Linked DNA regions of Homo sapiens: region 2 is linked to region 1. Evidence: fine-mapped expression QTL. Tissue or cell type: whole blood. Region 1 holds a variant in brackets; the other region holds the start of a gene. All regions are shown on one strand. Distances are between the middles of the regions.

Evidence for each region. PIP is the estimated chance that this variant, and not a neighbour inherited with it, causes the effect.
Region 2: it holds the start of TRAPPC12, and the variant in region 1 is fine-mapped to the expression of TRAPPC12 in whole blood (TOPMed, PIP above 0.99).

Annotation. Positions count from the first base shown.
Region 1 is chr2:3,476,928-3,483,047 of GRCh38, reverse strand. It overlaps TRAPPC12 (trafficking protein particle complex subunit 12), which reads right to left. Exons shown (of 12, transcript NM_016030.6): 10 at 5,253-5,353; 11 at 4,115-4,202; 12 at 3,483-3,829. The coding sequence ends at 3,587. It overlaps TRAPPC12-AS1 (TRAPPC12 antisense RNA 1), which reads left to right. Exons shown (of 2, transcript NR_046720.1): 1 at 1-902; 2 at 1,163-4,455. It also overlaps the pseudogene LOC112268321. Among named protein-coding and RNA genes, the nearest start is that of TRAPPC12-AS1, 3.3 kb to the left of the region's middle. The variant G/C (reference allele first, on the strand shown) is at 3,006.
Region 2 is chr2:3,376,885-3,381,884 of GRCh38, reverse strand. It overlaps TRAPPC12 (trafficking protein particle complex subunit 12), which reads right to left and starts at 2,191. Exons shown (of 12, transcript NM_016030.6): 1 at 2,009-2,191. EIPR1 (EARP complex and GARP complex interacting protein 1) reads left to right here and starts at 4,067. Exons shown (of 9, transcript NM_003310.5): 1 at 4,067-4,237. The coding sequence starts at 4,196. RefSeq lists silencers at 2,171-2,220, 3,784-3,843 and enhancers at 2,709-3,225, 3,226-3,742, 4,014-4,063, 4,084-4,263, 4,284-4,563.

The sequences.
Region 1 (6,120 bases):
CTCGGGGCCTGCCTGTAAGAGGCTCAGGATGTGATGTGGCTGGGGATGAGGCCCGGTGGCACCTTCAACGCAGGAGAGGAGGGGGTCTGGATCCCACCGTCAGAGCACGCACGCAACCTGTCCACTCCCTCAGGACTGCAGAAAAGGTCCATTCTTGTATTTCTTTTTAAGTTGAATTAAATCCATCTCTAGCCCCTGCCTCTGAACTGATGGAGTCTGGCTGTCATTGGGCCTCCCTCACCCGCAAGGGGTGGAACCAGAGCTTGGGGCTGAGGCGCTCCTGGAGTGTTTAGCGCCTCTGCTGTCAGGACATCCTGTGGCCACTGGCACGCTGTCTGCCCACACAGTGCCCCCGACCAGCAGCGGAGCCACCCACTCTCCACAGCCAGGGTTGGGAGCCCTGGGGCCCGAGTCCCCGGTCCCACGTGCCACACAAGGCAGGACATTCTGGGTGCTGTCGCATCCCCGGAATCAGGGCCTGGACCCTGGTCAGAGCAGGACCTGCAGGTGACCCCGGGTGGGGCAGACTGTCTTCTGTCCTTGGTGGCAAAGCCGGTGTTCTCGGCGTCATGTCTGCACACGTGTGCCTGAAGCCACGGGAACGCAGGGGCTACCTCTGGGCCTGGGCCTGGACCTGTGGAGCAGGATCGGGGAGGACACACAGGTGGGCGTCTCAAGAACTGTGGTGTACACAGCTGAGCCCCTGCAGCTCTGCTTTGCCGGGCCTCACCCTCGGTGCTGGGTGCAAGACGTGACAAGATGGCATGGGAAGCTTCCCGGGGAACGCTGGAACTGGGTGTTTGAAGGAGGACCTCATGGCGGCAGCTCCAGCCCAAGTACTGCAACTGTGGGGCCGTGCCAGGAGCAGGTGCTGCGGAGCCTGTGTGGGTCCAGGACAAGAGGTAAGGGGAGTGTGGACGGGGCTGCACTGTCCTGGGGTTGAGGGCAGGCTTCAGGGGGTGACACTGAATAGGGACTAGGAAGGTGCATGCCAGGAGGGGTCCAGGCAGAGAGAACAAGTGGGGGCACAATCCTCGAGGGGGCATAGAAGAGGCCAGCAGTGTAAGGCAGGATGGCGATGCCCATGGGCTCCAACGCCTGCTGTGTAACTGGAATTCTGTCTGTGGCCTCCGGCGTCTGACATGCGTTCTCACACCTGCAGGAGCACCAGAAGCTCCTGGAGGGCGGTGCAGACGACACTGTCGGGCCGGCCCAGCCCAGGCCCCAGCAGTTGACTCCTCTGTGATCAGAGGATGTGGCTGAGGATGTGCATTTCCGTCAAGTTCCCAGGAGAACCTGGTGCTGCTGCTTCGGGGACCCCACTTTGAGGACCACTGATCTAACACTGCCCCTCGTGGCAAACGCGGAATGACTCAAGATTCAGCTGGATGGATCATTCAGGGAGCAAATCCACCCTTGCCGCCTGGCACACCCTGGCCATTCGGTAACGATGCCATCAGGGTTACTGGCTTCTTCATTCTCCACTGTGCATTCCAGGGTGGGCATTTCCACAGTTGTGAGCCCATCATCAACTCAGCGAGTTCCCATTTTCCAGTTAGAAAATAAGCTTTCTGATCGTTAGCCATTCACTTCAATTGGCTCTAGAAAAGATTTCTGGGATGTATAATTTATTTTTAACATAAAGAAAAGCTAAGTGTAAACTAGATAAGCTACAATTGTCCCAGACGTTATAGACACTCACAGCACCGTTTTCCTCTTCTAGCAAAACAAAACAAAAAATTCTGCAATCATACAGGCAGTAGGAAAAAAAAATTAGCTGGACACCATGGCTCACACCTGTAACCCCAGCACTTTGGGAGGCCGAGGTGGGAGGATCACTTGAGGCCAGGAGTTAGGGACTGGCCTGGGCAACATAGTGAGATCCCATCTTTATAAAAATAAAAAAAATCTGGGCGTGGTGGAGCACACTTGTGGTCCTAGCTACTCAGGAGGCTGAGAGTGGGGAATCGTTTGATCCCAGGAGGTTGAGGCTGGAGTGAACCATGTTTGCACCACTGCACTTCAGCCTGGATGGATGACAGAGTAAGATCCTGTCTCAAAAAAAAAAAAAAAAAAAAAAACAAAAAAACCAGGAAGAAATAATCCAGGCAAGAAACGAGGCAATGATACTGTCACCTGGCCTGGCCTCATGCCAGCAGCATGGGGGTGGGGCTTGGGAGGGAGGGTGGATTTAGGCTTACCAGCTTACTAGGGAACTTTGATCTCTGTTTCTGATTTGCCGGGCTCATGTCTAGCTGGAGCCTGGGCACTGCTGTCTGCTTTCCCGCACAACTGGCCGGGGACAGCTCTGAGCCCCGAGCCTGTAAAGGACGGGCTCCATAATCCTCTGGCAAATCCTGTAAGATGCCTGCAGTAAGGTGCCAGGTTGGAGCAGAGGAAGAGCCTTACACTTCATCCCTGAAGTCACATTTGAAGGAAGACCCTCAAGGTGGAGGGCTTCTAATTACATCTTCATCTTTCTGGGCTTAACAATAGTTTCAGTTCTCTTTTTGAAGAGAAAGATCTTGAAACCTCCTTGGTGTCCAACAGTCCTTTTGGCTGTCTCACCTCTTTTTTCTTTTCTTTTAATGCATAATTAATCTAGATGTCAGCAAATGGGCTGAGACTGTCTGGTAGATGCAGTGTTTGTATGTTTCTACTCTATTACAAAAATTAACAGAAATATGGCTTCGCTTTGTGCAAATGTTTATATCACAGTCTGTAAAATGAATTATATTTAAAACTATCCACAAAGCTAGATATTTAGAGAACCCTTGGCAGAGTTCTTTCGTAAAGTGAAGACATTTTCAGGTACTTTAAGTTCTTCAAAAGCAGGAATAACTGTGTAAACGTAAGGGCAAAAGGCCTTTCAGGCATGAGAGAACACATGAAAACACGTGTCTGGCTTCAAAACCACCCCCAGCCCCTGCCTGCCTGCGTTTTACGCGCTCTTCCTGTGCTTCATTATGCGTCGTGCTTCCTGTTCCACTCAGCTCACTCTCCAC[G/C]TGGACGTATAAACTATGGGAGAAACAGTGATGGCCTCTCCTCCACCGCCAGGCTGGCAGGGGTCGTTTGGCTGGCATCAGGCTGGAGGAGACTCGGATGGGTAAGACCAACGCACTTAGTTTTGGGTGTGTGGGGAGGGCAAGAGGAGCATGAGCGGCGATCTGTGGGGGGTGTCTTCCCTGTTGTAAATCTCCCTGTACGTGCAGGTGCACGGCGAGAGGGTCTCCACACCTCCCAGCTTTTCTCTGAGGATGTCCAGAAGGAACGAGCAAAGCAGGATTGGCCTCCAGAACAGAGGCCCCGAGGCTGACTCCAGATTTCCTGTCTACGAGCTGTGTCCTCCCAGCACGCCTGCCCCTTGCATTCATGAACAGTGACCCAGCTGCAGGGACTGCGTGGCTGAACGCCGACCAACTGCGGGGAAGTCCTGGGCTGGGCCGTGGCTTGGGACCAAGAAGACACGCAGCAGACACCAGTGAAGCAGGAGTTTTATTGAGTTCCTCCATGTCACATTAATACATTAGCTTCAAGACACAGTTTCAAAGACCCGGGTCCTTCTGACGTAGTGTGTTGGAGGCAGCTAGGCCAGCTTGAGGCACTGTGTGTTGAAGCTGTCCCCCTCCTTGCCGGCGACAGCCTCCAGCAGGGCCTGTTTCTTCTGCATGCTCCGTGAGGACTCCAGCTCGTACATGGTGGTCAGGTTGAAGAGCACGCTCTCGTGCAGGTAGTGCCTGGGGTCCTGCTGGACCATGGCCTCCAGCTGCCGCAGGGAGTCCTTGAGCTTGCCCAGGTAGAGCAGACACACGGCAGCGTTGTTGTTGGCCTAGGGAGGAGCACACGCCCAGGGTTGGCCCACACAACCAGGACAGACGCCCGCCCATTCCAGGCTGCGTGCTGGGCCGTGTTAGGGGCCTGGGGGTGGTGCAGAGCTGCTGGGCAGAGCCTAGGTGGCCCTGTTGGGTCACTTCCCCTAAGGGCCACAGCCACTGCCTGGAGCTGGTGGACTGGAGAGAGAGAGCGCAGGCCCCTGCTGAGACGTGTGTGGGTGTATGTTTCTAGCGTCTGTGAAAGGCAGAGGATGGAGGATCCTGCAGCTTGGGGATCTTACCACTGCGTTTCTTGGATCCATCCTTAAGATCTCTGTGAAGAACCTGTGGGCTTCTGCAAAGTTATTCTGCCCGAGGTGAAGGAACGCGCTGTAACACAAGCAACGGTGGCAGTTAGCGGGGAAAGCCCAGGAGCTGCTGTCCCCCAACACAACCCACAGGGGCTTTGGATCCCACAGAGACCCAGCGTATGGCCCTGTGTGGCCCGGGGTTCCTGATCTCCAGGTAGAGGCGGTGAGCTGCGTTTTGCATTCAGGCTCGCACATTAAAGCCACTCTAGTTTTTATTTATTTTTATTTTTTAGATGGAGTTTTGCTCTCGTTGCCCAGGCTGTAGTGCAGTGGCACGATCTCGGCTCACCGCAACCTCCGCCTCCTGGATTCAAGCAACTCTCCTGCCTCAGCCTCCCAAGTAGCTGGGATTACAGGCGACTGCCACCACGCCTGGCTAATTTTTTGTATTTTTAGTAGAGATGGGGTTTCACCATGTTGGCCAGGCTGGCCTCAAACTCCTGACCTCAAGTGATCTACGTGCCTCAGCTTCCCAAAGTGCTGAGATTACAGGCATGAGCCACTGCACCCGGCCAAGCCACTCTAGTTTTTGTTAATTGAGATAGAGTAACTTCACCTAAATGACTTCCTGCTAAAAGCGGACACCTGCTTTATTTACGCTTTCTGATCCTGGCTGCAGGCTTTGTCCAAGGCGTGTTTCCTCCTCACGAACGTGCACTCGCACGACGCTGTGCGTTCTACCACAGAACACCAGAGCACGGGATCCAGACACAGAACACCAGAGCACGGGATCCAGACACAGAACACCAGAGCACAGGATCCAGAACGGCCGCTACGCCAGCAATGGTGACCTTTACACACACATACGCTGAAAACGGGGGCAATACAAGCGCTTCTCTGAAGAACAAGGGGGAATAGCTCCTTAAAAATCAGCTTCTGTGACTAAAAGAACATCACTGCGATTCAAGAAAACACCTGTATACTCCTTGGGTCTCCGCTCTGAGAGACACAGGGCAAGAGGAGATACAGGGAGAAGCGCCTTCTCTAGGGAGCTTTCCAACTCAGTAAGTGGGGCTTGAACGCCTCTGGGAAATTTGAGAAAACATATATTTAGTTTTAAAATATTTACCTGTTCATCAAAACCATGATTTTACCCTGTAGTCCATCTAATTTCTGTGTTACTTTCTCAACGTCTTGAAAATACTTTTCAGCTGTTTTTATGTCTCCAATCTGCTTTGACAAAATTTAGTCAGTTTAGTTGACAAAAGAAATATTAAGTCTATACTCATATATTTAGTTCCCTAATATCATGTTAGAATATGAAGACATTTATATGTCAGGCAGAGGAAAACTTCAGTAACCATTTAATCATTTTTTAATAAAAAGGCAAAAGACATTTAAGATACAGTGGAATGTTAATGTTCTATATGTCAGAAACTAAGTTGCTAATATACACGCCTTATTTAAGAGTCTTATAGTTTAGTAATTTTTACCTTTTGGAATGAATTCTGGCAGAGCATTAGATAAAATAAAATGAATAACTAATAAGATGAAACATAAAATACTTAAAATATTGGTATAATATGAGCAGGTCCTACGTCAACTTATGAGTTACTTGTGGCTAGTAAAATGGTAGGTGCCACCACATTTGCAAATTGCAAAGTAATATTTTGACCAAATAATATAGAATTCAACTGTAAAAAACAAGCCAAACCAAACTCAAACCCACTCTTATCACGCATGTCAGGAAACCCACCGGCTGCCCGACTGAAATGCAGCCGGATGCAGCAGGCCTGTGGCAGAGGAGGCCTGGGGGGTGGAAGGCTGAGTGCCCCAGCCCTGACTCCTGAGGCCACAGCTTGGTTTTACAAAGGCAGACTTGGGTTTTCTTTCACCTCTAGAAGTGTAAGGAAGGGAATAAATGATCTAAGGCTTACAATAAGAAATAGATACAAATGAAAGAAAAGTCCTATTATGGCCCAAGCCGCGCTCACGAG
Region 2 (5,000 bases), 100 kb after region 1:
GTTAGGAACACAAACATATTTGGTCAAACTACAAAGAAAAGCCAGGATATAGTAACAGCCACTTTAGTGAGGGAGGGGTGGAAGGTGATGGCAGGAGAGCTTGACTGGGGAGGGACACACGGAAGTTTCAACGCACTGGGAAATGGTCCCCATCTTATGCTGGTAATGGAAGACTGGGTTGACTTGATCTTTAAATCTCACATGTGTGTTACGGGTAGTCTTTATAGTTCATAATTAAAAATGGAAAAACACAAGTATCTGTTCTTGATTTGTACGTGATAGAAATCTTTACTCCCTCCTATCATTGGCTTTATTTTTATTAAACTATAAATAGGATTTTAAGCTTACATAAGCTTACAGAAGCTTTACATCACAGTGCAGCAAAGAAATCTGACTTTCTCCTTGTCCAGTTGAGGGCTTTGCACAAGAATGTGATTAATTAATTGTTTAAAATTTTTTTAAATATTAAATTTAAGTAATTCTGTATTTGAGAAATAAAAAGTTCCTAACAACATTTAAAACTTGGTTTCTCAGGTTCATTTCCTGGACACAGACACTCTGTAAACATATCTTTTACCAAATTGCAGTCATGTAAAATTTCCTTCCATAAGGGCACGAGGGTGTGTAGTGGAAATCTAGGTGGCACGTATTAACAGAAGTCTCCATGTAATGAACACTCACTACAGATCAAGCATTTTACCTTATTATTTAATACTCATCCTAAACTTTTGAAGCATTATTATTACCTCCATCATACAGCAGAGAAGGCCAAGTGATTTGCCTAACATCACACTGACAGTACCTGATGGTGACAGGCTACCCACACAGCGCTTTCTGCCAATACTCTTTTCTTTGTGCTGGTCACCTCTCAGCTCCTCTTGCAAGGTTGCCAGGCAGGGGTGGGCAGAAAGAGCTCTGAAGGCAGTGTCTCAATAACTGTGTTGAGTCTTAGCTTCCCGACCAAGTGAAGTAACCTCTGAAAATCTTGATCTTTTAGATGGTACATCAGAATAAAGAGGATTAAATAGTGGCACCCCTGCATAGGCATCTTTTAAAGTGTGAAGAGCTGCACAGACACAAGCATAGTAATTATCATTTTAATGATAAAGCAGAGTGGCAACACCCAGTTTAGTAACTGTGAAGAAGATCCCATCAGATATCACAAAATGTAAGAACTGAATGAGTAACACTGTGTAATATTTCATTTGCTTTTCCCCTGTCCCTCTCCCACCCCAATCCCAAGACGGGACTGGCTCATTATCCGCCACTATCTTCTGAATTTGCGAACAGTGACTGAATCCAAAGACACCATATCTTCAAGTAGCCATTAAAAAGTACAAACCGTAGGTCCAAGAAAATTTTTCCTTGGGGCTACACTGTTTCGTAGTGAAGAGTGAAAAAATGACACGTTAAAACACATCTTTGACCCTAACGCTTTCTGTTGAATAAACGCTTTTTCGGTCTTCACAGTAAATATACTCTACAATTAGTATGTGTAGCAACAGCGGACGTTTACACAGTGACTCAAATGCTTTTACACTGCATTGCAGCCTCACAATGCTGAGTTTGGCAGGGCAGGTCATTAGTAACCTCTTTCCGCGGGAGGGTGAATTAAGTCTAAGGGAAGTTAAGGGGCTTGCTGGGGGCCTGGCTGGCACCAAGCCTGGAACTGGGGGTCTCGGGGACGCCTGGGCGCGCGCCAGCGGGTAGTTTCCCACACGCTTCGCAGCAGCTTCCCCTTCCCGCAAACTCCGCGGGCTGCAGAGACGCTTCCAGCCCTCTGCAGACGTGGAGAGCAAGGGCCGCGGCGACGTGGAGCCTGGCACAAGGCCCGCGGAGCACACACGCCCTTGGGTGGCAGGCGACCCCGCGCCCGGACCCCACGCCCACTCTAGCATCGGTCCCAGAGAAGGTCCCTCCGGGCTGAGGCCAAAGCCAGTGTGCTCCCTCCCCGAGGTGGCGCTACACGGTCCCATCCCCTCTGGACTGCCGAGGCCCTGATCCTCACCTGCCACCCGCCCACTGGAGCTGGGCTAAGGGGTCACCTGCGGCCGTGACCAAGGTCCGTGAGGAAGGTGACAGAAGCCGGGAATCGGAGAGGAACTGGCACCCCCGGGGAGCTCTGTACGCCTGCGCGTGCCGGGCCGCGGCGCGCCTAGTTCTGCTCAGGCCCGATGCAGGAACCCGAGGCCCTGCCCCCAGGCCGGAAATGGGGTTCGTTTCCGGTTCGTCTGCTGTGGGCGGGGCCTGGAGCCCTAGGTGTGAACGCGCACAGGCAACCAGGAGCCGGTAGTTGAGGGGAGCGGACCCTGTACTTGGAAATGGGAACGGAGACTCCACTCCACCTAGCCTGATTCTGTCACTCAGAGGCAATAGGCAAGCCTGTGGCAGATGGGGCGGGTGAAAGGGAGTCGCTTAGGCTATTTTTATTGACCAGCATATCCTAGAAATCAGTGTTTCTATGGATTTGTCTTTGTGTTTATCTGTATTTTGTAAGTTTCTTACCATGCACCTGCAGTACTTGTATAATAAAATTAATGATAAAGATATCAGTGATAGATGGGTGGGTTTAATCCCGAAGTATGAAGGCCCTCTTAGCTCCGCAAGTTAATATCGGCAAACAGAGTGGTTGAATAGGATGATTCTCATGTCTGGGCCATTGCTTACTTGATTTCTTTCTTTCTTGTTTTTGCTTACTTGATTTCTTTCTTTTCTTTTCTTTTTTTTTGACCGACTCTGGCTCTGTCGCCCAGGCTGGAGTGCAGTGGCGCGATCTCGGTTCACTGCAACCTCCGCCTCCCGGGTTCAAGCGATTCTCCTGCCTCAGCCTCCCGAGTAGCTGGGATTACAGGCGCGTGCCACCACGCTGGGCTAAGTTTCGTATTTTTAGTAGAGACGGGGTTTCACTGTGTTGGCCAGGCAGGTCTCGAACTGACCTTGTGATCCACCCTCCTCAGCCTCCCAAAATGCTGGGGTTACAAGCGTGAGCCACCGCGCCCGGCCTGCTCATTTGATTTCTCATGTAATCTCTAAAATTTCATACACTCAACAGATACTCATCCAGCCTTAACTCAATACCACGCGCCTTGCCCAACTGAGCAAAACGAGACCCAACCATTTCCGTCACGGAGATCAATAAAGGGTAGAGGGGAAAGCTAATCACAGAAATGGAGGAAAGGTGCGTGGTCCTGGAAGCCCCGGTGGAACCAGGCTAGCGGCGTGGTTCAGCTATGATGTATTTTGGAGTCCTTGCGATGCCATTTCTGCTGGCCCAAGGCCAGGGCAGGCACTTTGAGCAGGATGCGAAAGAGGGGCAGTCTCTCCACCACAAGTCTTTAGTCTTTGGAGACCTCTAGGAACCCCAGGGCCTTCCCTTCCGACTCCCATTCGGAGGCATATGCAGTCCAGGACCACCAGTGGTGCGGTGCCGGCTTTCATAACCCCATCCTTGGTAGTGCTTTCTTTGCCACACAGTGCTGGGCACCTGCAGAAATGCATTAGGCATGGCCCTGACTTAGGGCACCTTGGGCCGAACCTAAGGGAGTCAGCTCAGGTGCCCATCCTGGCTACCCAATGGACCAATGAGCGCTGCGACTGTGTTACTCAACTTTGCAGCGTCTCATCGGTAAAATGGAAGTGTAACAGCTTATTCATAGGGTTGGATGAAGCTCCTTATGGCAGTGCGTGTGAAGCGCTGGCCCAGCGCTCAGGAACGCCAAGTACATACAAATGACAATACATGGCGGCGCCCAACTACGGCGTGAGCGATTCTTAGATGCGATGGCTAGCTAAGGCTAATCGCCGCTTGCTCCCGACGGCCTGCGCTCGGAGCCGGCCTCCACCCACAGCCGGCCTCCGCGGCCCGCTCCGCCCACCAACTTATTTCCTCTGGGCCGGGTTCTCACCTCCAGGAGTCCCCGCGCTGAGAGCCCGGATGTGAGCCCAAGTGGCCATGCGCACAAGCCAGCGCCGCTGCCATTGGTCGCTGGTGAGGAACAGATTGATGACACATCCGAAAAATAGGAAGTGGCCACTACGGAAGCTGTTCTGGGCCAGAAAGACTTCCAGTTTGGAGTCGTTTGCTGCGGGGAGGGAATGAATGGGCGCTGGGAACACGCCCGCGAGGTGGGGACGCGCCGGCCGTAGCGAGGTCCTTAGCGTGTGAGTGGCCGGGGTCGGGTCGCTTCCCCGCAGCATGGAGGACGATGCACCAGTGATCTACGGGCTGGAGTTCCAGGTGGGTCACTGGGAGGGCGGCAGGTGCTGCTCGGCCTGGCTGTTGATAGCATGCGCGGTCCCATGGTGACTTCGGTTTGCAGATCTCCCACCAGCCCTGCAAGGACCCGTGTCTGTTCCCTAGTTCCCATTTTGCAGAGAAGTAAACTGAGGCTTTAGGAGGTTAAACGGTTGTACTGGATAACAGGGTTGGCCACAGCCGGCCTGCCTCCTTCCCCTTCACATCCTGTCCCGAACATGACTTCTGACCTGGAAGTTATCACTCACTTTGGTGGACTCATTTATTTACACGCCCACCTTTTCCTCTAGAATTTGAGTTCCTGAAGGTAGGAACTGTATGTTGTTTAAAATAAAAATGTTTGATTTTGAAACAATTTAAAGTATTTAGAAGAGTTGTAAAAATACATAGAAAGTTCTTCTTTACCCTCCACCCAGCTTCCCTTAATGTTAACACTTTACATAACCATCGTACATTTATCACAGCTTAGAAATTAACATTGGTACACTAATATTCAGTAAACCACAGACTGTCTTCGGATTCAACTGTTTTCACACTAGTTTTTTACCTTGTATTTTCCAGTGCCTTTTCATGACTGTCACATAGTAGGTGTTCAACAAATGACTATGAACCGAATGAGCCCCCAGAGCATAAGCAATGCACATGGTAGTTCAGGACAGCAAGAAAGCTGCCGTGGATAGAGTAAATGCGTCAGGGGGAATGAGGTAGGGGATGAGATGAGCGGGGGAGGAAGATGAGGATTGTG